Linked DNA regions of Homo sapiens. The protein of the gene in region 7 interacts with the protein of the main gene of each other region in a pairwise test. Each region holds a gene or a part of one and is shown on either strand. Other genes may lie near its edges.

What was found.
Region 1: the proteins of TMX2 (region 7) and THSD7B interact in binary tests that used the Homo sapiens proteins (3 or more experiments, as listed by UniProt).
Region 2: the proteins of TMX2 (region 7) and RUSF1 interact in binary tests that used the Homo sapiens proteins (3 or more experiments, as listed by UniProt).
Region 3: the proteins of TMX2 (region 7) and DERL1 interact in binary tests that used the Homo sapiens proteins (3 or more experiments, as listed by UniProt).
Region 4: the proteins of TMX2 (region 7) and STX3 interact in binary tests that used the Homo sapiens proteins (3 or more experiments, as listed by UniProt).
Region 5: the proteins of TMX2 (region 7) and INSIG2 interact in binary tests that used the Homo sapiens proteins (3 or more experiments, as listed by UniProt).
Region 6: the proteins of TMX2 (region 7) and MGST3 interact in binary tests that used the Homo sapiens proteins (3 or more experiments, as listed by UniProt).

Annotation. Positions count from the first base shown.
Region 1 is NC_000002.12:137,055,545-137,059,044, reverse strand, and holds part of THSD7B (thrombospondin type-1 domain-containing protein 7B precursor), read right to left. Parts: intron 2,626-3,500; coding exon 1,815-2,625; intron 1-1,814.
Region 2 is NC_000016.10:31,491,392-31,494,891, forward strand, and holds part of RUSF1 (RUS family member 1), read right to left. Parts: intron 2,546-3,500; coding exon 2,475-2,545; intron 2,397-2,474; coding exon 2,212-2,396; intron 2,134-2,211; coding exon 2,076-2,133; intron 1,658-2,075; coding exon 1,587-1,657; intron 950-1,586; coding exon 806-949; intron 696-805; coding exon 618-695; intron 1-617.
Region 3 is NC_000008.11:123,028,803-123,032,302, reverse strand, and holds part of DERL1 (derlin-1), read left to right. Parts: intron 1-1,546; exon of another isoform or gene 1,547-1,586; coding exon 1,587-1,698; exon of another isoform or gene 1,699-2,073; intron 2,074-3,500. UniProt on the Homo sapiens protein: Functional component of endoplasmic reticulum-associated degradation (ERAD) for misfolded lumenal proteins. Forms homotetramers which encircle a large channel traversing the endoplasmic reticulum (ER) membrane.
Region 4 is NC_000011.10:59,793,376-59,796,875, reverse strand, and holds part of STX3 (syntaxin-3), read right to left. Parts: intron 3,497-3,500; coding exon 3,362-3,496; intron 1,505-3,361; coding exon 1,394-1,504; intron 1,275-1,393; coding exon of another isoform or gene 1,164-1,274; intron 1-1,163. UniProt on the Homo sapiens protein: Potentially involved in docking of synaptic vesicles at presynaptic active zones. Apical receptor involved in membrane fusion of apical vesicles.
Region 5 is NC_000002.12:118,098,471-118,101,970, forward strand, and holds part of INSIG2 (insulin-induced gene 2 protein), read left to right. Parts: intron 1-3,500. UniProt on the Homo sapiens protein: Oxysterol-binding protein that mediates feedback control of cholesterol synthesis by controlling both endoplasmic reticulum to Golgi transport of SCAP and degradation of HMGCR.
Region 6 is NC_000001.11:165,629,974-165,634,033, reverse strand, and holds the start of MGST3 (glutathione S-transferase 3, mitochondrial), read right to left. Parts: upstream 2,801-4,060; 5' UTR 2,741-2,800; intron 1,804-2,740; exon of another isoform or gene 1,795-1,803; coding exon of another isoform or gene 1,760-1,794; intron 1-1,759. UniProt on the Homo sapiens protein: Displays both glutathione S-transferase and glutathione peroxidase activities toward oxyeicosanoids, as part of cellular detoxification as well as synthesis of bioactive metabolites.
Region 7 is NC_000011.10:57,715,593-57,719,092, reverse strand, and holds part of TMX2 (thioredoxin-related transmembrane protein 2 isoform 1 precursor), read right to left. Parts: intron 1,245-3,500; exon of another isoform or gene 527-1,244; intron 1-526.

The DNA.
Region 1 (3,500 bases), on a different chromosome or scaffold from region 7:
TAAATTTCTCATTTAAATTCCCAAACTATGGTATTTATTTTTATAACAGTTAGTCTTCGGCAATTCAAGCTGCTATAACAAAGTACCAGAAGCTGGATGGCTTAAAAAACAACAGAAATCTATTTCTCACAGTTCTAGAGGCTGGAAGTCTGAGACCAGGGTACCAGCATAGTCACATTCTGGTGGGTTCTCTCTTCTGGCTTGCAGACTGCTGACTTCACATTGTATCCTCAAATGGCAGAAAAAGAGTGAGAGGAAGCTCTCATGGCGCACTAATCCCATCTATGAGAACTGCATCATCACGACATAATTACCTCCCAAAGGCCCCATGCCTCCTAAAAACATTACACTCATGGTTAGAATTTCGATACATAAATTTGGGGAGGGGAACACAATTTGAACTGTGTTATGCACTCAATGTTTGTGTATGTAACTATGAAATGTTTGTTTATGAAACTATCACATGAATGCAAGATGTTAATAATAGGAAAAAACTATATGTTGGAGACAGGGAGTATACAGGAACTCAGTACTTTCACTCATTTTTTCTGAAAATTTAAAAATTGATCTGAAAAATCAAGTCTATTAAAAAAAGAAAAACACTGCAAAAATGCACAAACAAAATGAAAAGATTCTATGTAATGCTCACTTCAGCAATACAGTACGGAATATTAAGAAAACAATGTATTTACACAACCCCACACACATTCAAACAAATTGCATGAATCTTTTGCTTAATCTGGACTTCAAAGAAGTAGGCAATAAAAAGCTGCAAATCACTCTTCAGTGGACTTGCTAATTTCATATGGCACAAATCAGAATGAAGTATCAAGGATAAAATATACTCATTTGTGAAGTCAAATGGAAAAAAAAACAATCATCACATTACTTTGTTCATAAACAACAGTGGTAGTCTTCTGGGCATCTCCTGGTCAGCTGTGGATCCCAAGAAGGCAGCAACTGATGAGAATGATTAATTCTAAAGACAAGCATTATGTTGTTTGGTAATTTAAGTACTATTGAAAGGCATCTTAATTTGGAAGAAACTTAGTAATACACAAATGCTTCATTTAAGACCCTCTGAGGTAAAATTAAACAAATACTACTTTCAATATATTTCTGTGAGTTTATGTCATGATGTTTTAGACTACAATTTAAAATAAAACAAGCATAAATTTGAAACCTAAGCTGTTGCTTTAATAGTTTATTTCTTCTCCAGTACGTCATTCTAATTACTGCTTGCGCAAGTTAATACCTGTATCAAAATAACGCCAAAGAAAGCACTCTTGGAACAACTTTTCGGTATTATTGCTAGTATAAAAAATGTACAACACAGATGTCAAAGAATGTTGATAACAGTGGAAACAAAAGTAAACAAATAAAAACAAAAATAAAATTTTAAAGGACAAATGTTCTGAAAAACAAAAATATTTACATAATTCATATCCCACATTTGAAATTGAACTTGAATTTTTATCATTATGAGAAGCCCCTTAGTCTTCTATCACTGTTGTAATGGCAGATCTATTTTTATACTAGTTACTGTCTTGATAAAATGTGGAAATATATGACTTATCCTATATATATAATTGCATTACTAATCACACAAGAATGCTAGAACACTGCTTGGTCTAAACTATGCAATTTTGAAAACCTCCCAGTGAAATTAAAAATTTCTTACATGAAACTTCTAAAAACCTAAATTATAAACCTCGTTGCCATTTTCGCTTTGTAGAAAATCATAAAGAAGCTTTATAAAGTTGCACTATAAAATATTTTAGGTGAATCAAATTCAAGCATCAAAGGTCTCCTACCTTAACATAGCATTTTGTCCATCACTTCTTGTACACGAAACCTGCCGGGTTTGATAACCTATCTCTATTGCCCAAGACTTCGAATGATGATGTGCTTTGTAACTTTGATGTTTAAAGGTGACTCGCTCATTTGAATCAGAGTTAAAATCCAGAACAGTTCTTCCGCTTGGATTAATTTCTTTAAGATGAGGCAGTCTGCATTTACTCCATGGTCCAACCTTAAGGCTAAATGTATATTCCTCTTCCCCAAGAGGACAGGAAATGGGAGCATCACAGGCTCTTGACTCAGTCAGATTTGGACATTGCAAACCACCAAAGAGAGGGGGAGCTATGACCGCGCGAGTTCTATGCTGCAATTTCTTCCCACATCCCTTGCTACAGTTGGACCATGGTAAGAACTCAGATACTACACAATCCCGGGGACAAGGAATGAGGCAAGCCTGTTCTGTAGGAGGCTGAAGGGCAAAGTGTTCGCATATTTCATTTGCAACCACAGTTCGGTTCAGCTTCTGAATGCAGCGCACCATCCGGTGCTGCAGTCCATGCTGAGCCGTCACACACTCTGCAGTCCGAGGCTTGACTTCACCGCGAGCGTAAGGAACAAGCACACAGTGGTGCCAGTCAGAAACCTCCCACTGAAAGAGGTCACTGTGCCAGTCACAAACTCGGAAACAACTTCTTTCCTTTGGAGGCCTGTTGCTCTCACCACAGTTAGACAGGTGACTTGTCCACCCGTCAACATGAAAACACCACACTGCCCGACTCTGGACTCCTCCGGGACCACAGTCTCCTGTACACCTTCCCCACGGACCTACAGGCAGAAAAACAAGGATGTTAATTACTCAGAGATTACATTCAGCAATTCACAGGTAAGTAGAAGTCAATTAACACACTTTCCAACACAAGCAGTATGAAATTAGGAATTTTGGTGGAACAGAGACAACATAATTTAGTGGTTCAGAATGTGGACACTCTTGTTGAAATAAGCATTCCATCAGTAATGTAAACTTGGATGAATTATTTCAACTTTCTAAGCCTTAGAAAGTTCCTCACCTATATAAGGTAGAAGATAATAAAAGCACCGACTTGTAGAATTGCTCTGAAGATAAATGATACAATGTGTCAAGTAGACAATACAAATTTAATAAATGATTGGTACCATTATAACTACTACGTTCCAAAGCCTATACATCTAACTCAATATTAATACTTTCCACTGAGGTGGTGTTTCATTCAAAAGAAAAGCCCTAAAGCCAGGATTTTAATAAAGTAGAATTTTTCATATTTCCAGTCTTTCAGCTCAAACTCTAAGAAGCTCAGAAGAGAGATATGTTTAACACCCTAAGTTGCCAAAGTATCCTATTTTCATTTTCAAAATAATTGTCCTCAGTTTTGGTTAGTACTTGCAGAGAGAATTGCATGAAAATAACAATGGGGTGCAGGGGAAAGGTAAGGTAATAAGAGAAGCAGCAGCACTGAATTGTCTGTGGAAATTCTGCCCCTAGAATCCTTGAAGTGTACTCATTTTGATTTCTGATGGGTACTGATCCAGGTACAGTTTCCAACATTAGCTTGTAATATGCCAGATCTTTTAATTAACTAATTCATTTGTGTAGGTAAGAGTCCAAGAAATGGACAGATGAGGGAGCTGCCCATTGACGTTTATCATATTTTTTGCATCTCATC
Region 2 (3,500 bases), on a different chromosome or scaffold from region 7:
TCACTGCAACCTCTGCCTCCTAGGCTCAAGTGATCCTCCCATCTCAGCCTCCTGACAGTCCCACAGGCGTGCATCACCATGCACAGCTAATTTTTTTATATTTTTGGTAGAGACAGGGTTTCACCATGTTGCCCAGGCTGGCCTTGAACTCCTGAGCTCAAGTATCTGCCCGCCTTGGCCTCCCAAAGTGCTGGGATTACAGGTGTGAGCCACTGTGCCCGACAGTCTTTTTTTTTTTTTTTTTTTTGAGAGAGGGTCTTGCTCTGTCACCCAGGCTGGTACAATCATGGCTCACTGTAGCCTCGACCTCCCCCAGTTCAGGTGATCCTCCCACCTCAGCCTCCTGAGTAGCTGCAACCACAAGAGCAGAACCACACCTGGCTAATTTTTGTGTTTTTTTTGTACAGACAAGGATTTGCCATGTTGCCCAGGCAGGGTCTCAAGCAATCTGCCCACTTAGGCCTCCCAAGGCACTAGAATCATAGGTGTGAGCCTCTGCACCAGGCCCAAGAACCCAAGTCTTTTACCTTTCAGGTGAAAGGGTGGGAGTGGGGGAAGGCGGGGCCCCCAGGGACAAGGCTTCAGGGGCCAAGCAGCCATGGGCTGAGGGATGTTACCTTTCAAGAACTTTGGGAACAGCATGTCCAACACTTCGTGTGTCTCCTTGACGACGACCCAGCTCTCTTTCTTAGGACCTGGGTACGGGGGTGCAGAACCAGAAGCTCTGTGTCCTCCAGCAGGACAGAGTTTGTCCTCTCTCCTCCCCACCCTGAGGCATCAGCAGTCTAAATCTTGAGGCACTTACCTGCCCGCACCCGGTTCCTCAGCTCCTCCAGCTCTGCTGGAAGGGGTCCATCTCCCTGCAGGGCCCCAAGCATCAGCCCATGTGTGGCGGCCCTTAGGATGGTCTTGGGGCCTGCCTTCTGGTTCAGAACTACCTGTACCTGGTCTGGAGGGACCCAGAGACAGACTGGTATCAGGGAAGGGCCACCTCCCAAACCCCTTCTATCCCATCACCCTGCTTCCCCTGTCTGCCCCAAGACCTTGGCCTGGCACGGAAGGCTAGCACCTCACCCTTTCCTTTCCAATTCATCTCCTGTTGCTCCCCAATGTTCGGGCCAAACTGACCAATTTCCAAATACAATTTCCCAGCCGCTCACTGGGCTGGGTCTATTTTGCATTTCTTTAATGGCTAGTGAGAATAAGCACCTTTTCACACTCAACCAGCGGACCAGCACACTCAAGGACTTGTTTACCCAAGAGGCAACCCAGGATGGAGAGAAGGGTGGTTTCCCACGGACAGCAAAGGTCATAGCCTTCCTAAGAGTGCTGCAATGTAGCTTTGCAGTCACATTATTTGATCCTCATAAAAACACCGCAAGGAATAAGGCAGGTACTGTTAGCTCTGTTTTACAAAGCGGTGACATGAATTTCACTGGGGCATTGCAGCTGTAATTTGAACGGTCTAGAGCAACCCCCAGAACAGGCAGCCTCCAAACTGCCCAGAGCTCGGGGCCCTAGGTTGGAGGAATGAGAGGCTGACCTGGGAGGGTGCGTCTTAGGCTGGGAGAATGAGGCACACTCACTTTGTGACTGGTCCCAGCAGAGGAGGTAGGATTCTTGGTGCCCCTCAACCAGCTGCTGCAGCTCAAAGACACTGTGGGGGAGAGGACAGTGCAGTGGGGGTGGAGGACAGCAAAGGCAGGCATGCCCAACCAGCCACTGAACAGCCACCCAGTGAACTGAAATGATCCAGGCTTCACTCAGGTCCCCTCGCTTCCTCTCTCCCTCAGCCATTACCCATACACACCAAATCCATCCTTTCTTCCTGTATCCAGTCATCCAACTTCCCCATCTACCCATCCTTCCTTCACCCATCAAGCACATCTCTTACATCTGCTTCATGTTATACACCCTTTCCTTCCTCACACACCCACACCAACCCCATGTCTGTTCAGCAGCAATGAAGAACCCAGGACAGAGAGGTGGGGCCTTGCCAGGGAGGCCAGTGTGTAATCGGAGTGAGGGGAGTGTGGGTGGCGGTGGTGACGAGCGGGAGACGCTAGGCCACTCACCTGGAGACCAAGCGGTGTAAGGGGACCCCCAGGGATAGAGACGGAGCTGGCCAGAAACCTGTGGGAAGCTGGGGTCAGGATGCCTAGGCAGTGGGAGAGGTTGAGACACAGGACCCGAGACCAGGGGCAGGGTCACCTGTCCACAGCGGCTCCATGCGATTGGCTGCAGTTGGGTCGAGTACCTCTCCCCTCTGAAGGTAGTGCTTCAGGACCAGCCGGAGCCGGCCTTCGTTCAAGGTCTCCATGACCAGGGCTCGGACCGCGCGGTAGTTGGCGTAGATGTGGAGGGCAGTGAGGAAGAAGAAACATCCAAGGCTGAAGCTGGGGTGAGAGAGTGAGGTAGCTGAAGTGGGCAGAGGCCCAGCTGGGGTTCTCCTGCCCACCCTGCTTCCGGCTTACCCAGGGCAACCTGACACCAGAGGGAGCATCAGGAGGCTGACCAAGAGCCCCGCCAGGTTCACCAGCGTCTCCTGGAAAATGGCAGAGGGAGAAGGAGTTGGAAGGTGCCCCTCCAGGCCAGACTGAGTGCCCGAGTGCCTTTCACCTCATCCTCCCTGCTCCACAACCTCCCAGGGCTCCTTACTGCAATGTGGGTAAATTTTTAGTTTTTGGTGGGTGAAATGTCATTTAAAAGATGCCAGCTCGAGGTGGCTCACACCTGTAGTACCAGCACTTTGGGAGGCTGAGGTGGGCAGATCACTTGAGTCCAGGAGCTTGAGACCAGCTTGGGCAACATAGTGGGACCCTATTTCTACAAAAAAATTAAAAATTTGGTGGGGCATAGTGGCTCGCGCCTGTAATCCTAGCAATCTGGGAGGCCGAGGTGGGCAGATTCCCTGAGCTCAGGAGTTCAAGACCAGCTTCGGCAACACGGTGAGACCCATTGCATTTTTGTAAAAATACAAAAAACTAGCCAGGTATGGTGGCGCGTGCCTCTACTCCCAGCTACTCAGGAGGCTGAACTGCTTGAGCCTGGGAGGTGGAGGTTGCAGTGAGCTGAGATCACGCCACTTCACTCCAGCCTGGGCAACAGAGCAAGACTGTCTCCAAAAAAGAAAAAAAAAAAAATTAAGCCATGATTGCACCACTGTACTCCAGCCTGGGAGACACAGTGATACCCTGTCTAAATACATATGTGTATCAGTTGCTTTTTTGCCCAGGTAGGTGCCCTCGGAATACCCTTGAACACATCTTGTCTTGCAAGTCACCAGAACAGACCCACACTCAGGCACTCACTAATGTGTACTTTTTTTTTTTTTTAAAGAGCGAGGGTCTCGCTCTGTCACCCAGGCTGGAGTGCAGTGGTGCAATCATAACTCACAGCCACCTCAAACTCCTGAGCTCAAGTGATCCTACCACCACGCCTCTGCTAATTATTACTGCATTTTTTGGTAAAGATGGGTCTTGCTATATTGCCCAGGCTGA
Region 3 (3,500 bases), on a different chromosome or scaffold from region 7:
ATTAGCCAGGTGTGGTGGTGCATGCTGGTAGTCCCAGCTACTTGGGAGGCTGAGGTGGGAGAATCACCTGAGTCCAGGAGGTGGAGGTTGTAGTGAGCTAGGATCATGCCACTGCACTCCAGCCTGGGCATCAGAGCAAGATCCTATCTCGGGGGGGAAAAAAAAAATGTAAATCCAGAAAAACAAATGAATAAAGGAAATGCTCAGGTTTTTAAAACGTGAAAAGGTGCTTGACTTCTCATAATGCAAATAAAAATTAGTTTTCAGATTGGTGAATATATAATACATGAAATGGTGAGAGTATGGAGAGAAGACAGGATTCATCTACTTTTTAGGAGGAAGTATAAATTGAGCAAACATTTTTGTAGGCATTTGGCAGTATCTACCAAAATAAATGGTTATGTCTGTTGCTCTAGCAGATTTATTGACAGGAACTTATTCTGTATATGCACATATAAAGAGGATATACAAGAATATTCATTGTGGCATTGTAACAGTTTAAACAAAAGTTTAGACATTCACATACAAGGAATACTATGAAGCCAATTAAAATATTTTGTAGGGAATGAACCAAGGTATAAAACAGTGCCGTATAGAGTAGGATAAAGAAGAATGAGTAATAGTAACATGTATTTCTTAGAGGAAATACAAGACACTGATCAGCTGTTGTTGGGGAACTGGGAGACTGGAGGTTGGGAATGAGGCTTACTTGTTACTTTATTATTTAATTTATTTTAATTAAATTAAATTTAATTTTTTGAGACGGAGTTTCGCTCGTCACCCAGGCTGGAGTGTAGTGGCGCGATCTTGGCTTACTGCAACCTCCGCCTCCTGGGTTCAAGCGATTCTCCTGCCTCAGCCTCCCGAGTAGCTGAGATTACAGGCCCCCGCCACCTCACCTGGCTAATTTTTGTAATTTTATTGGAGACAGGGTTTCACCATGTTGGCCTGGCTGGTCTTGAACTTTTGACCTCAGGTGATCTGCCTGCCTCAGCTTCCTAAAGTGCTGGGATTACAGGCATGAGCCACCGAACCTGGCCTGCTTGTTACTTTAGACCCTTCTTATGTTTTGTTTGTTTTTTCAGGGAAATGTTTTTAAAGAAAAAGTGCCCCTATTGCCTATTTAGTGCATTGGTTTGAATAAAAAATTGTTGTTTTACTTCTGCCTTTGAATGTGGCATTTTTGGACAAGGTTTGTCATTCCAGAATATTCTTTCCCTAAATAGAGGCATTACTGTACTGTTGGAAATTAAGCCTTTGTAATTCATTTTTTGATGTAGGCTTAATTGTATGCCTGATCTCAGCAAAGACTAACCATATACTCATATAGTATTGATTTTGTTTCAACTTGTTTAGAAATATTTGTTGCTTATTTTATGATGTCGTTTTATTCCATTGATTTGCAAAGTGATGTGATTGTATTTGGTGTGAACACTTTTCTTCAGTTGTTTTCTTGAGTTGTGTTGGTAGGATCACTTTCACACCTCTCATTGAGGAGGATGCTTTGTTAATTTTGTTTAGTTAGAAGGGAAAGAAATAACCAGGCTTACAGAAACTAACAGCTGTGTTTATTTTGATCTGGACAGATTTGGAGGCCAATCACTGCCACCTTTTATTTCCCTGTGGGTCCAGGAACTGGATTTCTTTATTTGGTCAATTTATATTTCTTATATCAGTATTCTACGCGACTTGAAACAGGTATGTTACCCATAGTTGTTTTAAGCATTGTTTCTTTCTCATTTACTAATCCATGTGTTTACTTTGGAGGAATTTGGAGGGCAGTTAGCATTACAAAAAGAAACTGCATAAAGATAGTAAATGCTTAGTGACTGTGCCAGGACTGCACCAGGCACTTAGCTTACTCAATTTTTAATCCTCACAACATCCTGAGGTATAAGTAGCAGTGTTACCATTTTATAGATGCAAAAAGTAGCAGATCAGAGGTTGACATGGCTTGTCCATCTCCTTAGTGGCTGAGCTGTGTGCCTTTCATTTATTTTGAGGGTCTCACTCATTTCTTTTGCAGCAGTCCTTGTCCTTCAGTGCAGAATTGGGCTGGAGTATATATGTCTCCTAGATTGGGGTTGAAAAACATCAATTTATGTAATTAAAAGCCTAGATTTATTCTCTAATTGAAAAACTCAACTCTAAAATACAGTATATAGCCAAGATTTAATAATATATGGTAGTTTATCAGGTATGAGTACCAATGTAATATTTTATTTTATTTATTTATTTATTTTTTGAGACAATCTTGCTCCGTTGCCCAGGCTGGAGTGCAGTGGTGCCATCTCAGTTCACTGTAGCCTCTGCCTCTCGGGTTCAAGCAATTCTCATGCCTCAGCCTCCTGAGTAGCTGAGATTACAGACACCTGCCACCATACCCGGCTAATTTTTATATTTTTAGTAGAGATGGGGTTTTACCCTGTTGGCCAGGCTGGTCTCAAACTCCTGACCTCAAGTGATCTGTCTGCCTCAGCCTCCCAAAGTGCTGGGATTACAGGTGTGAGTCAACGTGCCCAGCCAACCTATGTAATATTATGGATAAGTTCGAAAAATCTTTTCGTAAAAGTGTCTTACTGAATTGTCATTTATTTCCTACAATACCTTATATGCTGTCTGAGTCACTTATACTAAAGAAACAATACATCAATACACTGTGTTACAATATGGATATAATTTTGTTAAATTTAAATGACTTTGAAAAGGCTGACTGACTTCAGAGACTTTATAAACTTGCTGGCTGTTACCTCAGGATAGAGAACTCTGAACTACCCTTAAGTGTATGTAAGTCAGTGCTCATATGGTTGAGAATTGCGAATCAGTCTCATCACTGCAGGGAAATAGTAGGATGGGTATTTGATGTCAAGTAACATTTTTCCTTAAATTGGCATTTGCTTTTAGGTTCTTTTTAAAAAGAAAGAAATTGTATTAATACAAAGTGTAAGGTCATAGACTATTATATTACTATTGGGAGGAACCTAGTTTATTTCCTGAGTTTTACCAAAAGATGAATAGGAGATTCAAGGAAGTAAAGTAACTTGGCAGAAATGAAACTGACAACTAGGCCTCTCACCACCATATTAGGGGTTTGATCTTTAAATCTACCAGAATATGTGATTTTTATTCTCCTTTGTTCCAGTTGGACCCATAATGATACTGAGTGCTTAGCAGTCTGCCTTTCTGGTATAACTTAATTGAGCATTAATTTGTTAGAGTAATTTTTTTTTTTTTTGAGACAGGGTCTTGCTCTGTCACCCAGACTGGAGTATAGTGGCACAGTCATGGCTCCCTGCAGCCTTGACTGCCGGGGTTCAAGTGATCTTCCCACCTTAGCCTCCCTAGTAGCTACAAGGATGGGTGTTAAACCGCCACACCTGGCTGACTTTTGTATTTTTTGTAGAGATGGGGTTTCACCATGTTGCCCAGCCTGGTCTTGAACTCCTGGGCTCAAGAGATTTGCCCACCTTGACCTCCCAAAGTGCTGGGATTACAGGCGT
Region 4 (3,500 bases), 2.1 Mb from region 7:
GCCTCCCAAAGTTCTGGGATTATAGGTGTGAACCACCACACCCAGCCTAGGACAGTTTAAATTTCTTAAATTACTTCTAGGCTAGGAATGCCAGCAGAGGGAAATATGGGGCCTCTCTCAGCTCTCAGCTCACACTGCAGTTCTGTATATGTGGACAGATAGAATCAGAGCCACTATCGTGGGGTCTCTAAGGAGCAGTTGGCCAAGATAAAAAGTCACTGACTGATTTTTTCCATTTTAAGAGGGAATGTAAAGGCATTTTTGATAGAGTTCTAATTTCCTACTTTTGCCCATACTCCTACCTGTCAGACCCAGTACACTGCCTGGATATCAGAAAATGCCACCCAGCCTGGATTCACCATGTAAAATAACTTCCCAGTCCCCTAAATCCCTGCATAAGCAATAGGTAAAGTTGGATGAAAAACAAAGAACTAAACAACAACAATATCAGAGCCCAAGAGAACCAGTCAAAGGAGAGAAGTCTAAAAAGCAGACGCCACCAGAGCTGGATAACCACAGTCGTGAGCACAGAAGCCTAGAAGTCCTTAAGCGGCAGGGGCACCAGAGGGTGGGCAAATACAGTGGTGTGGTAGAAACAGAATGATTGGGATCTGAACTTGAATCCCAGTGCCTCTACTTACTAGGTGGCCTGAAGCCAGTTACTGAGCCCCTGACCCTCAACTGTCTCATTTATAAAGTAGAAATAACAGGTGCTCCATCAGATATGACATAATGTATAGATAGCAGTTAGCATGAGCTAGGTACAAGGTAGAGAAAAAGAGAAGGGAGGCGGAGCTTGGGCGCCTGGAGTGGAAGACAATGAAGAGAAGGTTTCTGAACAGAGGAGTCAAGTGTAACATCTGAAAGCCTCATGAGCTAAGTCCAGGAGAAGATTAGCAGCACCACCTGGGCCATGCATCCATCCTACAGAACTGCCTTTCAAGTGTGGGTTTTTGGGGAGATAGCTTGTGAGCCAGATCCATGCAAGGCACACCTGGGAAGGAAGGGCAGGCAGCTTGTCTCTAGGAAAAGCTGAGGGAGGGGTTGATGAGGCTACGACAGGGAGGGAGGCATGGGCTCAAGAACACAGGTAGGGGTGGCCAGGGAGAAGAGATACTAGTAAGACAGCTGAGACGAAGGACAGTTGAGATGAAGGTGCTCACCCTCCGGGCTTCACTCTGATACTTGACAGCCTTTTTGGTATCTGCCACGGCCCGCTCCACAAAGCCCACTGACTGGTCCATGTTGTTCTCAATACGGTCAATCATGGATCCCTTTCCCCAGATGCAAGAGGTGGTGGCAGCAGAAACAGAGACAGGGAGAGGGAAGAGAAAGAGCGAGACACAGCAAACAAAATGGACTCTCTTCTCTGAAGGCCACAGGAGAGTCTCACCTTCCGGGCCTGACTCTGGTATTTCACAGCTTTTTTCGTTTCATCTCGTGCCTTCTCCACGTGGTCCACTGTGTGCATGACATTCAACTCTATGTTATCTAACATCTCACCCTGCAAAGAACAGACTCTGATCACACCAAGTAAACGTCTCAGGTCAGTCCTAGCCAATGCGGGGAAGGGATTCTCTTTCTTACAATCTTCAGTGGCAAGAAGAGCATCCACAAACCTTGATGCATGGCCTTCCATAGGACACCCATTCACAGTCCTTGGTGGTGGGGTGGCAGTCACTTGTTCAAGAAACATTCAGTGAATTTTACTACTTCTCTGTGACCAGCACTCCACCAGGCATCCAGAACATACTATCTAGATACCTAGTAACTACCTATAAATATACTCTGAGATATCCCCAGACAACCTTTGTTATTTTTTTTACACTTAAGCACATGGAGAGGAACCAAAATAAGGATATCTCATTGTTATTAGGACATCACTAGGATGCTGGCCTCTTCCTGGTCATTCAGACCTGAATCAACATCATTCAGCCTGAATTGAGTATATTCACTAACTGCAGAAGAGTGCCTGGCACACAGTAGGTGCTCAATAACTATCTGAGGTGGGGAACATTTGCTTTCTCTAAGTTATTTCCAGGCCCTTTAACTGACAGACATTGGGTTTACCCAAGCTATTTGGTTATATTTTCCCTTCCAGACAGTGGTCTCTTGATAAGCTTCCCAACCATTTCCTAGCAATCACTTCCTGACAGGGAAGTTTGATCATTCCAATTAATCTTAGGCATTTTAGGAATTCTCCTCAACTACCCAACCCAACTCTATCACTTTATGGCAGTCTGTAAACAGAACAAGGCACTTACCACCACTTGAATCTCAAGCCAGTTCCTCGGCAAGGCAGTGTGGGGGAAAAGAAGAGGTGGGATGGAGGGACTTGAGAAATGGTCTCAGAGGCCAGTAGGGAATGGGGGGAAAGCATCCAGGCCCTCGGCAGGGAACCAATGTCAAAAACTAGTCAAGCTGTGCTCGAGCTTCAACTAGGTTGTGCAGTCTGCCTACTATGGAAGCAATTTTCTCTCCTATCCCAAGTGTCAGAGCAGCTGGAAGTTCATGGCAACAGTGCACAGCACCATGACCCTGTGGCACACTTAACTGTCCCATAAGAACTAGGAACCATCTAACTATGCGAAACTAGCGCCCTATGCAGGCAATCCAGAATTCTATCCCGAGCAAGCATGCCTGGGACAAAGTAAGCTGTCAAACTAGCACCACGAGTGTTTCGAGTCTTTCTGTCAATGCTATTTTGCTACTCCTTCATTCATGTTGTTGTCTGCTCTGTGCCTTAGCAAAAGGTGCCAAAATTAAAAAAAAATACAAACAGAAAAAAAATGGAAAAAAATAAAAATTTATGTTAAACCTGAGTCTTCCCTGTGAACTAGAGAAAAGATCACATTTTCAATGTCATCAGTGAACTAGTCCATATCAGGAGGCTGTTTTAAAACGTCACCATTAGGAGCCCGGATCTCTGATTTTTAAGAAAGAAAAAAAGACAAATCCTGGGAGGATTGCTTGATCCTGGGAGGTCAAGCTGCAGTGAGCTGTGATCACGCCACTGCACTCCAGCCTGTGCAACAGAGCAATACTCCATCTTAAAAAAAAAAAAAAAATCAAAAATCCAGGAAAACTGGGTACTTGACAGAACACATCAAACCCTGTATCAACTAGCAACGACTGCAAGGCCAAAGGGACAGGCAAGAATGACAAGGTTAAGATCACCCAAAGTGTCAACATTCAATTTGAATGCACACTTTCCCATGGGATTCTGTTTCTCCTTTATGCAAATTCCCAATGGTTCTCCCACCCTACCTCACTGGCTTCCAGTATTCCCTTTCTCCCTGTTCTCAGTAGACCCTGAGCTTTCCTCTCCTCCCTCCCCACGCTGGGACTCACTGCCACTTACCTGATTCTCCACCAGCATGGCGATGTCCATAAACATGTCGTGAAGCTCCTTGATGCTGCTCTCCAGCCTCACAATGTCCTTGTGTCGTCCCTCAATCTCACTGAGGGCTTGCTTGGAAATCTGTGAGTCAATGATCTAC
Region 5 (3,500 bases), on a different chromosome or scaffold from region 7:
TGGGTCCACATGTCACATGCTGGGGAAGGGAAAAGGAAGCTACTCACACTTTTCCCCCTACTCAGGATGCCACTTTTCAAGCCTCCAGACTGGGTGCCAGACCTAGATGGAATTCCCTGGCGTGTGTTGTGCATTTGGGCTGGGGCAGGAGAACTTAACTGAGGTTTCATTGTACCTCCACTATGAAGAGTAACAGGGCTGCACCTGCTGTCTTGTCCTTCTGCCCCTTTAATGTCAGCACTTTTGCCATAAACTTACATTTTAGGAAGGAAAATTTCAAATGCTAATACCACAGTTCAGCCACTACTTTCCTTCCTGTTCCCAGCCACTAGGTTTGTCACACTTACAAACTTAACCTCATTTGGGGAATTTGCATTTACATTTCTTGCTTAAGTATTTCTTCTGAAAGCAGTTTGTACCATAAGGTACTTGGGCAAAAGAAAGTAGAGAGACATTAGGAAATCTAGATTCCAGCCAATTCTGCTACCAATTTTGTTAGTTAAGTCATGGTGTTTAGTAGATGAGAGTGAAAGATATCAGATTTGTCCAAGTTGCCAGAGATGGAAAATGGATTCTCTCAAAATCTCTGCTCTGCCATCCCCTGCATCATTATTTTAGGGAAAGTATCATGGGAAAAGAAGTAAATGATTTAAGAAACATAGTGTGTTTGAGTTTGTGTGTGTATGTAATATGCATATGTTTTTGTGTATATGTGTTGGCGTGGATTTTCAAGACCTCGCTAGGGTCTTACCATCTTAAGTCAGAAAAACTGATAATCATCCTTTGATTTTCCTGTTCAACTAACATTCATAGATAGAGCAGCCACCTTTTGGAGGGGCTCCAGAATCACCACCTTCTGTGTGTAGAAAGTGCTCCTTGTTATTTGCCACCTTTCTCTATAGCACAATCCTGGAAAATTTGCTAGTGGTGGTTCTGGTGGGACAACTAATAGAGAACTTTGGTAAACTAATTTTGATGACTTTTTTTTCTTAATTCCATATTTTTAGTTTGATAATGCTGATGTTACAAGTTAACTTCCTTATGTGTGCCATGCACCAGAATTGGAATTAGAAATCTTTTCAGCATTATTGAGGGCCACAAAGAAATCTTTCTAAAGAATAAATAGAAAAAGACAACTCGTGTGGATAAAATAAGTAGAGAAGTTGCCTCAAAAATCACAAGTAGCCTGGTTGTGTCCAAACGTATGAAAATAATATCTAATGTAAAAAGAAAAGAAAAATCTTTCCTGTTTAGCTGTGCAGTCCCTTGCCCTATTCCTGTAGAGCCTTGTAAGATTCCTTGCTTTCTCTCCCGTTCTACATCCAGTTTCCAAGTCTTACATCTTTCCTCTGTCTCTTTCTTGGTCCATCCCTCAATGGCTGTGCTTGGAGTCTTTAGTCTTTGCCGGCCTCTAGTTTTGCACCCACCCTTTTCTCAGCCCCCTTGTATGGTACCCTCACTGCTAAGAAGATGGCCTCTCTCTGGTACAACAGTGATGACATTGTTTTCCTGATTGCCCATTGTCTGCAGGGTAAAGTCTTTATAATATGGCCCTTGACTGCTTTTTTCTTCTTCAGAGTCTTTCTGGACCCTGCAGCTCCCTTTGTGTCTGAAGCTTACAGCTTCCTCTTAACACCAGCAGTTTCCAGTTTTCCATGAATGTCCTCAGCCACCTCCCTTTAATGAGAGCACTATTTCTGCGCCATTTACTGCTGAATGCTCCTGCCTCAAGGGTCACCTCTTTCCGTGAAGCTTTTCTGACAGCCCAGCACCTTGCCTTCCCCTAGCACAGGCAAGGAGAAGCCTGGGACCCCTCTGTCCTGTCAGCTGCCCTTAATGCAGGATTGTATTTAATTGTTTCTGTGGTCACTTTGCAATTGGAATCGTATCTTACTCTTTTGCCTTTTTTTTTTTTTTTTTTTTTTTGAGACGGAGTCTCACTCCGTCACCTGGGCTGGAGTGCAGTGGCGCCATCTCGGCTTACTGCAACCTCCACCTCCCAGCTTCAAGCGATTCTCCTGCCTCAGCCTTCCGAGTAGCTGGGATTACAGGCGCCCACCACTACGTCCAGCTATTTTTTTGTATTTTTAGTGGAGACAGGTTTTCACCATGTTGGCCGGGCTGGTCTCAAACTCCTGACCTCGCGATTCGCCTGCCTCGGCCTCTCAAAGTGCTGGGATTACAGGTGTGAGCCACCACGCCTGGCCTTACCTTTTTAAATCTCCAGCAAATACCAAGAACCAGACATATTGTCAGGGCTTAAGTATTTGTTGAAGGAAAATATTATCTTATAGTTTTGCGTCGAAGTATACCTCATGGAGTGTTTTCGTTTATTCAGTTCCTGTTTTCTTACAAAATGTCTGACTTTAACTGTGTTCCTTTTAGTGCCTCCCTGCATTTAAGCACATTCCCATAAAAAAGTGATGACTTACTACTGATATTTTACAAACTTCTTTAGTGTTTAGCTTTGGTAGACTGTAACTAGTCACTGGGAAATAACTTAAAGGTATCACAAGAAATGTGATTTTTGCATCAGAGAACCATTTGATTTATAAGCAGGATTGTGTTTGCATATGATTTTACACAGGCATGATTTTAACAGTCTTTCTTGTTTTTTTTAAAAAAAAGTACAAGAAGAGGAAAAGAGGCCCAGACATACTCTGTTGAGCTCTCAAACAGTGGAACCTCACAGTGTTGTATATATTGCTATCAGACTCTGCCATGCCTTTATTTAAAGGAAAGAAAGAAGACATTTAATGGGAAGTGACAAGCTTCTTCGAATTCTCCCTCTCAGTGAGCAACTGAGAACCATGCATACTCAATGGATTTGATTTTTATTGGCAAATCCCAGGGTTGGCAGTGTGGCAGTTTAAATTTCTTTTTGTGTTTTTGCTTTCTCTCCTCAGTTGTCTCTCACTTGCAAGTCTGACATCACATGCATAAAAATATAGTCGATTTTACTTATTTATACCTTTGCACATACATGTCAGTATTCTCTATGTAATAATTCTTTACCTAGGCATCAGTTGCTCAGGAAAATTGACTTGGAATGTCTGCTCTTAGTTGACTTTACTCAGCAACAGGCAAAGGGAGGATATATATGGTGGGGGGATGGGGGTGACAAATGAGCTGTTAGTTTTATGACCCCTTGAGAAAAAAAGAGGTGATATTCGTTTAACTACATTTCAACTGTTAGGGATGCTTGTTGCCATTTTATTTGTATAGAAATTTTAAAATCCTGTCAGTTAATCTTGTCAGGATTTTGGAGCAGATTTTTAAATAGGAATATAGTGTGAAACTTCTAGATTTACTAATAGTTATTGGAGCTCTGCATTGCCGAGATATGTTCTTAATCTCTTGATGTTCTGTGAGCCATCTATACTCAGCACATGCCTAACTCAAAAGAGTTGTGGACTAGAAAATGCATACAGTATTGCAGCATCTCATCTCGAGATAGAAGGGTGGTCACACAGCCTTTTTCAAATGCTGCACCATTGGTC
Region 6 (4,060 bases), on a different chromosome or scaffold from region 7:
AAAAAAAAACTTTGGGAAAGTTCCAAACAAGGAATGTTTTCTTTTTAATGAGTGTCAGCACTGCAGTATGACAAAAGAAGTAGAGATTACGAGAAGGAAAAAACTTCCTCCAATCTTTCAGGCATATAGGTTTGCAAGGAGCAAAGTAACACAGAAACTGGCACTTCATTTATATATCATGTCATATAGCTGTCCCTTAACTGGCATTACATAGGAACCAAGAGTCATTGAGAAACTAAGCTATGACTTCCAGAAGGAAAAAAAAAAATCTCGAATGAGTCACATTGACACCACTTGGTAATTTTCTATTACAAGAAATGCAGGCAGACTGTAGTTAATTTGTAGCAGCTGCTGAATGCCCGTTAGGGTACCAACCACCCCAAAGGAAGGAACCACCTAGGCTGCTGGCTTTTGCCTGAAACAGGGGTTCGACCTTTTCATGCCTGTCTACACTTAGAATGAAGCTGTGGTACAACCGCTCCCATTGCTTGCTCATTTATTTATAAAATAAAATATCACTTACTTATTTTTAAAGGGTGGAATAAAAAAATAAAAAAATTAATTTTTGCTTTAAAAAAATAAAAAAAAATGAAGGGTGGAAATAAGGCAACTAAATCGTAGAACGCAAGTTCCAGTTAATGAACAGATCAACTCTAGAAATAACTCAGAAGGTAACAGCAAGATCTATGATTCTAAAGGATAAAATCCTTAAAGGCATTTGCAAATGCATTTGAAAGATAGTACAATTTTCCTGTTGCCTAATTACAGCGTTTCTCCTCAGAGGCAGGTAGGCAGGTAGGTACTGTAAGAGCGAGTGACAGAAACTCAGGAATTTTATTTTACATAGCGATAATCTACTTGCTGCTAACTGCTAAATTTTTTGTTCAGGAAGATGGTAAGCTTACAGTAGCATTAATAAATTGAGCTGCAAAAACCGTAGCAGTATATTCTTCGAAACAAATATTGCTTTAAAATGCTAGATGGTTCATGGTCAATTGTGGTCGGTAATGGTGTTCTAAATATAGATTCAGAAGATTTAAGTATAAACATAGGGCACAATATGTTTAAATACAGATAGATGTGCAGTAGGCACTGAATTGCTTTTGACAGATTGATTTGACATCCACCTCATTCCAGACTGCTCCAGGGGCTTTTTAGCATTTCTCTGAATAGTGGGTAAAGCCCTTCTTTCCTGTATGTTCCTTCTCGGTGCTAATCTCCAGGCGAGGAGGATCTCTTCCAGGATTGTGTCTTTTCAGAACTCTAAGCCAACAGGAAGAAATCTAAATAAAGCGGAAGGCTGCCCTTCTCCAGTTTTGTTCCTTAATCTAAGGAGGCCCCTGTAGCGCAGTTTCTATAGTTGGCGACAGTCTCCCTGCAGATTTATATATAGTAACATTGGTTAAAAAAAATCACTTGACAAAGTTTTCTATTTCCGTAACATTGTGTCAGGAGGGAAGCTTAACGGAAAGTCTTCCCAGGGATGAAAGTATTTGTTTCTATTTTATATGTTAGTTTTAACTCCTTAAATTCATCTCCTATGAGAATAAACATTCTTGATCTGACTCAATGTGCTCTCTGAATTCACTGAAATAAAATATAGCCTGTAACTCTGACCAATAACCTGGGGTGCCTCCCAGAACTGCTGGCTCCAGGTGATCTACAGATTTCCCAAGAGAAGCGCTGCAGCTCCTACCCACCAGCAATCTAAAATCTGCAGCAATTCCGCAGGACCACACCTAGGCCCAACAGCACATACCTGCAGAGCCGGAAGCGCCTTCCCCTCCAGGGCATCTCCTGTCCCCAGGGAAGGAATTAAAGTTCTAACCCCTGCCTCTCCTTCTACCCATCCTAGTATCTGCTTTTCCTTTACCTCGTCTTCCACACTTACTTGCCCCCGACGCTATTATGTAGCTTGTAAACTCGTGACTCTCAAGGAAAGTATCAGCAGAAGCCACAACTTCGGGGAATGACTCACTAAGGAGTCTCCAGCGCCTTCCACCGCCCTGCAACTGCCCCACTACTGTAGCCCTACGGCTCCGTGCTGCCACCCCACATAAAGAAGGGGCATTTTCTGAAATCCAAGGAAGAACCTGAAGAGTCCCCCACCCGCCTAGAGGCGTCTCTTGCTCTAAGTCAGCGGTAGGAAATGACCACCTTCCCAGTACAAATGGACAAACGATTCTAAGAGGCAGGAGGAAAACAAACACAATTCCTTCAGAGGCTCTCCCGACCGTCCCTAGCAACACATCCCCACCGCAGCGGGTGCATTGCTCACAGGCCACTTCTGAAACCAGTGTTACTGATCAGGCCTGCACAACCACTCCCCCGGCAGTGTCCGGCTCGCCATCCTCTGCGCCGGAACAGCAGAGGGCAAGGTCGGGTGGTCTCCGGAAGGCAGAAAGGTGCCCCCAGACTGCAGAGCCCGGGGACAGCAGGAGAGGAAAGGAAGGAATGGAGGAAGGGTTGACCTTGAGAATTTTCCTGAGTTACACATAAATAGGTCGGGCCTCGCTTAGACGCTCCCAACCCACTCCACCAGGGAAAAGATGCAAGGCAAGGGGAGAGCAGAGAGGGTGGAAATTCAGATCGCTAATTTACTGATAAGGGTGGGGGGAGGTTAGAGACAGCGGGTCTCTATTCAGCTCGCATAGGCTGAAATATGGGAGTGCCCTGCGCAAAGGCTGAAGTGCCCCCGGCGGCCCGGTGCTCGTGGCTGCCCGCAGGTGCTAGCACTCACCTGGATCACCTTCGAACAGCTGGAGCAGAACAAAACTGCGCAGCGCGGTGTGGGTGCGGCGCCCTCGCCTGGGGCGGGGCTAGATGAGGCCAGAAGCAGGCCCCGCCCCAGCCGACCAGCGCGCGGCCACGCCCCCAAGGCGGGGCTCCTGGCGCTGGCGCGCGCTGTCTAAGTTGCCAACTCAGGGCCACTGGTTGGGAGGTGGAGGCCTAATTTTCTTCCTGCTCATGGTCGTCCAGCGATTTACTCCTCTCATTCTCAAAAACATATATCTACTCCCCCAGGTGCCTTCGTGGCCATCTTCCTAAACTGTCCCAGCCAGGTCATACCTCCCGGATTGGGTTTGCAGAACAGTGGGACGTGAATAATTTGTCCCCAGCAGAGCCACCGTAGCGGTTTTAGGCGCTCTGCTGTAAGGGCGAAGCACGGGCATGCAAGGCGCGTGCGCGAAAGTAGCCGCGCCTCAATCGATGTGTCCCTGAGGCGCGTAGCTGGGGCGTGGGCGGCGCTTGGTGTCCCAGGTTGCTACACTCCCGAAGTGAATGGATTTATCGCTGTTAGGGCCTTTTTGTTTAGGGCCTAACAAATATTGTTAGTTTTGCCGAGAGCTGGCGCCGAGCCCTGCCCTCGTGGTGGGCCGTACCCACGCCCCCTGAGCGCGGAGTCGCGTGGCTCCGGAGTTTTGTTTTTTTGAAAGGAGTCTCCCAATTGTCCGTGGAGTTTTTTTTGCGGCACATGGAGTCTCTGCCTTCGCGACCCAGACCTTTGATGTGAACACCTGCTCCCGTTACGCTCGGGTCCAGCGTCCGGGGCGGGGCTCGAGGCCGGGTGGAGGAGGGGTGGGGGCGGGGGTCTTGGTCTTGGGTGAGACCTGCAGATACGGTCGGGCTGAAGGAGTAGAACTGGCTTCTAAATGCCGGAAAATCCGAAGGAACTGACTGCAGAAGGCACGTTTCCAATTTTCGCGTGTTTTAAGTGCACCCTCCCGCCACCTCTCCTCTGGACATCCCTCATCCTTTTGAAGATTGCCACACCTGGGCCCCTCCTAGAGTCTCCTCTTTGGAGGATTCCTCACCTCCGAGAGAATGCTTAGGAACCCACCTGAATGATTCCAAGTTAAGGTGTGGAAAGGCAGAAATCTAGATTTTTGAAGGCTCTAGGTTATGTGTGTGTTTCTTTTTATTGGGTTGTCATATTTGCACATCTAGAGGTACTTTGAGAGCTCATTAAATCTTTACTGTTGCTGTTTCAGCAATTTCCAACCATTCTCATACTTTCTGTCATGTTGGGTTTCTGTCATGTTGGATGTAGAGAGGGCTT
Region 7 (3,500 bases):
CTGCACTCCAGCCTGGGTGACAGTGAGACTCTGTCTCAAAAAAAAAAAAAAAAAAAAAATATATATATATATGGCCTGAATATCAGCTTTTAGTTAAGCCAACTTCTGACCAGAAAGCTCTTTTTAAAAATCCTTTGTGGCTGGGCGCGGTGGCTCACACCTGTAATCCCAGCACTTTGGGAGGCCAAGGCGGGCGGATCATGAGGTCAGGAGTTAAGAGACAAGCCAGGCCAACATGGTGAAACCCCGTCTCTACTAAAAATACAAAATTTAGCCAGACGTGGTGGCAGGCACCTGTAGTCCCAGCTTCTCGGGAGGCTGAGGCAGGAGAATTACTTGAACCCAGGAGACGGAGGTTGCAGTGAGCCAAGATCACACCACTGAACTCCAGCCTGGGCAACAGAGTGAGACTCCATCTCAAAAAAAAAAAAAAAAAAAAGAGGGGGGGTTATTTCAGAATAAATGAATGGAGGAAAACAATGATATAGATAAAACTAAACAGATATAAAAAGTTGGGCAAAGAGGCTTTGCTGCCACCACCAGGAGCCCTGTACTATCAGCCATGGTCAACCCCGTGTTCTTTGACATCACCGTGGATGGTGAGCCCCTGGGCCGCATCTCCTTCGAGCTGTTTGCAGACAAGGTTCCAAAGACAACAGAAAACTTTCGTGCTCTGAGCACTGGACAAAAAGGATTTGGTTGTAAGAGTTCCTGCTTTCACAGAATTATTCCAGGGTTTATGTATCAGGTGGTGACTTCACACGCCATAATGGCACTGGTGGCAAGTCCATCTATGGGGAGAAATTTGATGATGAGAACTTCATCCTAAAGCATACAGGTCCTGGCACCTTGTCCATGGCAATTGCTGGACCCAACACAAAAGGTTCCCAGCTTTTCATCTACACTGCCAAGAGTGAGTGGTTGGATGGCAAGCATGTGGTCTTTGGCAAGGTGAAAGAAGGCATGAATATTGCAGAGGCCATGGAGCGCTTTGGGTCCAGGAATGGCAAGACCAGCAAGAAGATCACCATTGCTGACTGTGGATAAGTCTAGTAAGTTTGACTTGTTTTGTCTTCACCACCAGACCATTCCTTCTGTGCTCTCCTCTCAGGAGAGCACCCCTCTACCCCATTTGCTCGCAGTATCCTAGAATCTTTGTGCTCTCACTGCAGTTCCCTTTGGGTTCCGTGTTTTCCTTGTTCCCTTACATGCCTAGCTGGATTGCAGTTAAGTTTATGATTATGAAATAAAAACTAAATAACAACAACAATAAAAAGCTAGGGAAAGAAAATAAAGAATGAAAACAAATTCTGGCCTCTGCCTCTGCCTCTGCCTCTCCCTCTCCCCTCTCCCCTCTCCCCTCTCCCCTCTCCCTCTCGGTCTCCCTCTCCCTCTCTTTCCACGGTCTCCCTCTGATGCCGAGCCGAAGCTGGACTGTACTGCTGCCATCTCGGCTCACTGCAACCTCCCTGCCTGATTCTCCTGCCTCAGCCCACCGAGTGCCTGCGATTGCAGGCAAGCGCCACCACGCCTGACTGGTTTTCGTACTTTTTTGGTGGAGACGGGGTTTCGCTGTGTTGGCCGGGCTGGTCTCCAGCTCCTAACCGCGAGTGATCCGCCAGCCTTGGCCTCCCGAGGTGCCGGGATTGCAGACGGAGTCTGGTTCACTCAGTGCTCAATGGTGCCCAGGCTGGAGTGCAGTGGCGTGATCTCAGCTCGCTACAACCTCCATCTCCCAGCCGCCTGCCTTGGCCTCCCAAAGTGCCGAGATTGCAGCCTCTGCCCGGCCGCCACCCTGTCTGGGAAGTGAGGAGCGTCTCTGCCTGGCCGCCCATCGTCTGGGACGTGAAGAGCCCCTCTGCCTGGCTGCCCAGTCTGGAAAGTGAGGAGCGTCTCTGCCCGGCCGCCATCCCATCTAGGAAGTGAGGAGCGCCTCTTCCCAGCAGCCATCCCATCTGGGAAGTGAGGAGCGTCTCTGCCCGGCCGCCCATCGTCTGAGATGTGGGGAGCGCCTCTGCCCCGCCGCCCCGTCCGGGATGTGAGGAGCGCCTCTGCCCGGCCGCGACCCCGTCTGGGAGGTGAGGAGTGTCTCTGCCCAGCCGCCCCGTCTGAGAAGTGAGGAGACCCTCCGCCCAGCATCCGCCCCATCTGAGAAGTGAGGAGCCCCTCTGCCCGGCACCAACCCCGTCTGGGAAATGAGGAGCGTCTCCGCCCGGCAGCCGCCCCGTCCAGGAGGGAGGTGGGGGGGGTCAGCCCCCCGCCCGGCCAGCCGCCCCGTCCGGGAGGTGAGGGGCGCCTCTGCCCAGCCGCCCCTACTGGGAAGTGAGGAGCCCCTCTGCCTGGCCAGCCACCCCGTCCGGGAGGGAGGTGGGGGAGTCAGCCCCCCACCCGGCCTGCCGCCCCGTCCGGGAGGGAGGTGGGGGGGTCAGCCCCCCGCTCGGCCAGCCGCCCCGTCCGGGAGGGAGGTGGGGGGGTCAGCCCCCCACCCGGCCAGCCGCCCCGTCCGGGAGGGAGGTGGGGTCAGCCCCCCGCCCGGCCAGCCGCCCCGTCCGGGAGGTGAGGGGCGCCTCTGCCCGGCCGCCCCTACTGGGAAGTGAGGAGCCCCTCAGCCCGGCCAGCCGCCCCGTCCGGGAGGGAGGTGGGGGGGTCAGCCCCCCGCCCGGCCAGCCGCCCCGTCCGGGAGGGAGGTGGGGGGGTCAGCCCCTCGCCCGGCCAGCCGCCCCGTCCGGGAGGGAGGTGTGGGGGTCAGCCCCCCGCCCGGCCAGCCGCCCCGTCCGGGAGGGAGGTGGGGGGGTCAGCCCCACATCCGGGAGGGAGGTGGGGGGGGGTCAGCCCCCCGCCCGGCCATCCGCCCCGTCCAGGAGGGAGGTGGGAGGGTCAGCCCCCCGCCCGGCCAGCCGCCCGGTCCGGGAGGTGAGGGGCGCCTCTGCCCGGCCACCCCTACTAGGAAGTGAGGAGCCCCTCTGCCCAGCCACCACCCCGTCTGGGAGGTGTACCCAACAGCTCATTGAGAACGGGCCGGGATGACAATGGCGGTTTTGTGGAATAGAAAGGGGGGAAAGGTGGGGAAAAGATTGAAAAATCGGATGGTTGCCGTGTCTGTGTAGAAAGAAGTAGACACGGGAAACTTTTCATTTTGTTCTGTACTAAGATAAATTCTTCTGCCTTGGGATCCTGTTGATCGGTGACCTTACCCCCAACCCTGTGCTCTCTGAAACATGTGCTGTGTCCACTCAGGGTTAAATGGATTAAGGGCGGTGCAAGATGTGCTTTGTTAAACAGATGCTTGAAGGCAGCATGCTCGTTAAGAATCATCACCACTCCCTAATCTCAAGTACCCAGGGACACAAACACTGCGGAAGGCGGCAGGGTCCTCTGCCTAGGAAAACCAGAGACCTTTGTTCACTTGTTTATCTGCCAACCTTCCCTCCACTATTGTCCTATGACCCTGCCAAGTCCCCCTCTGCGAGAAACACCCAAGAATGATCAATAAAAGAAAA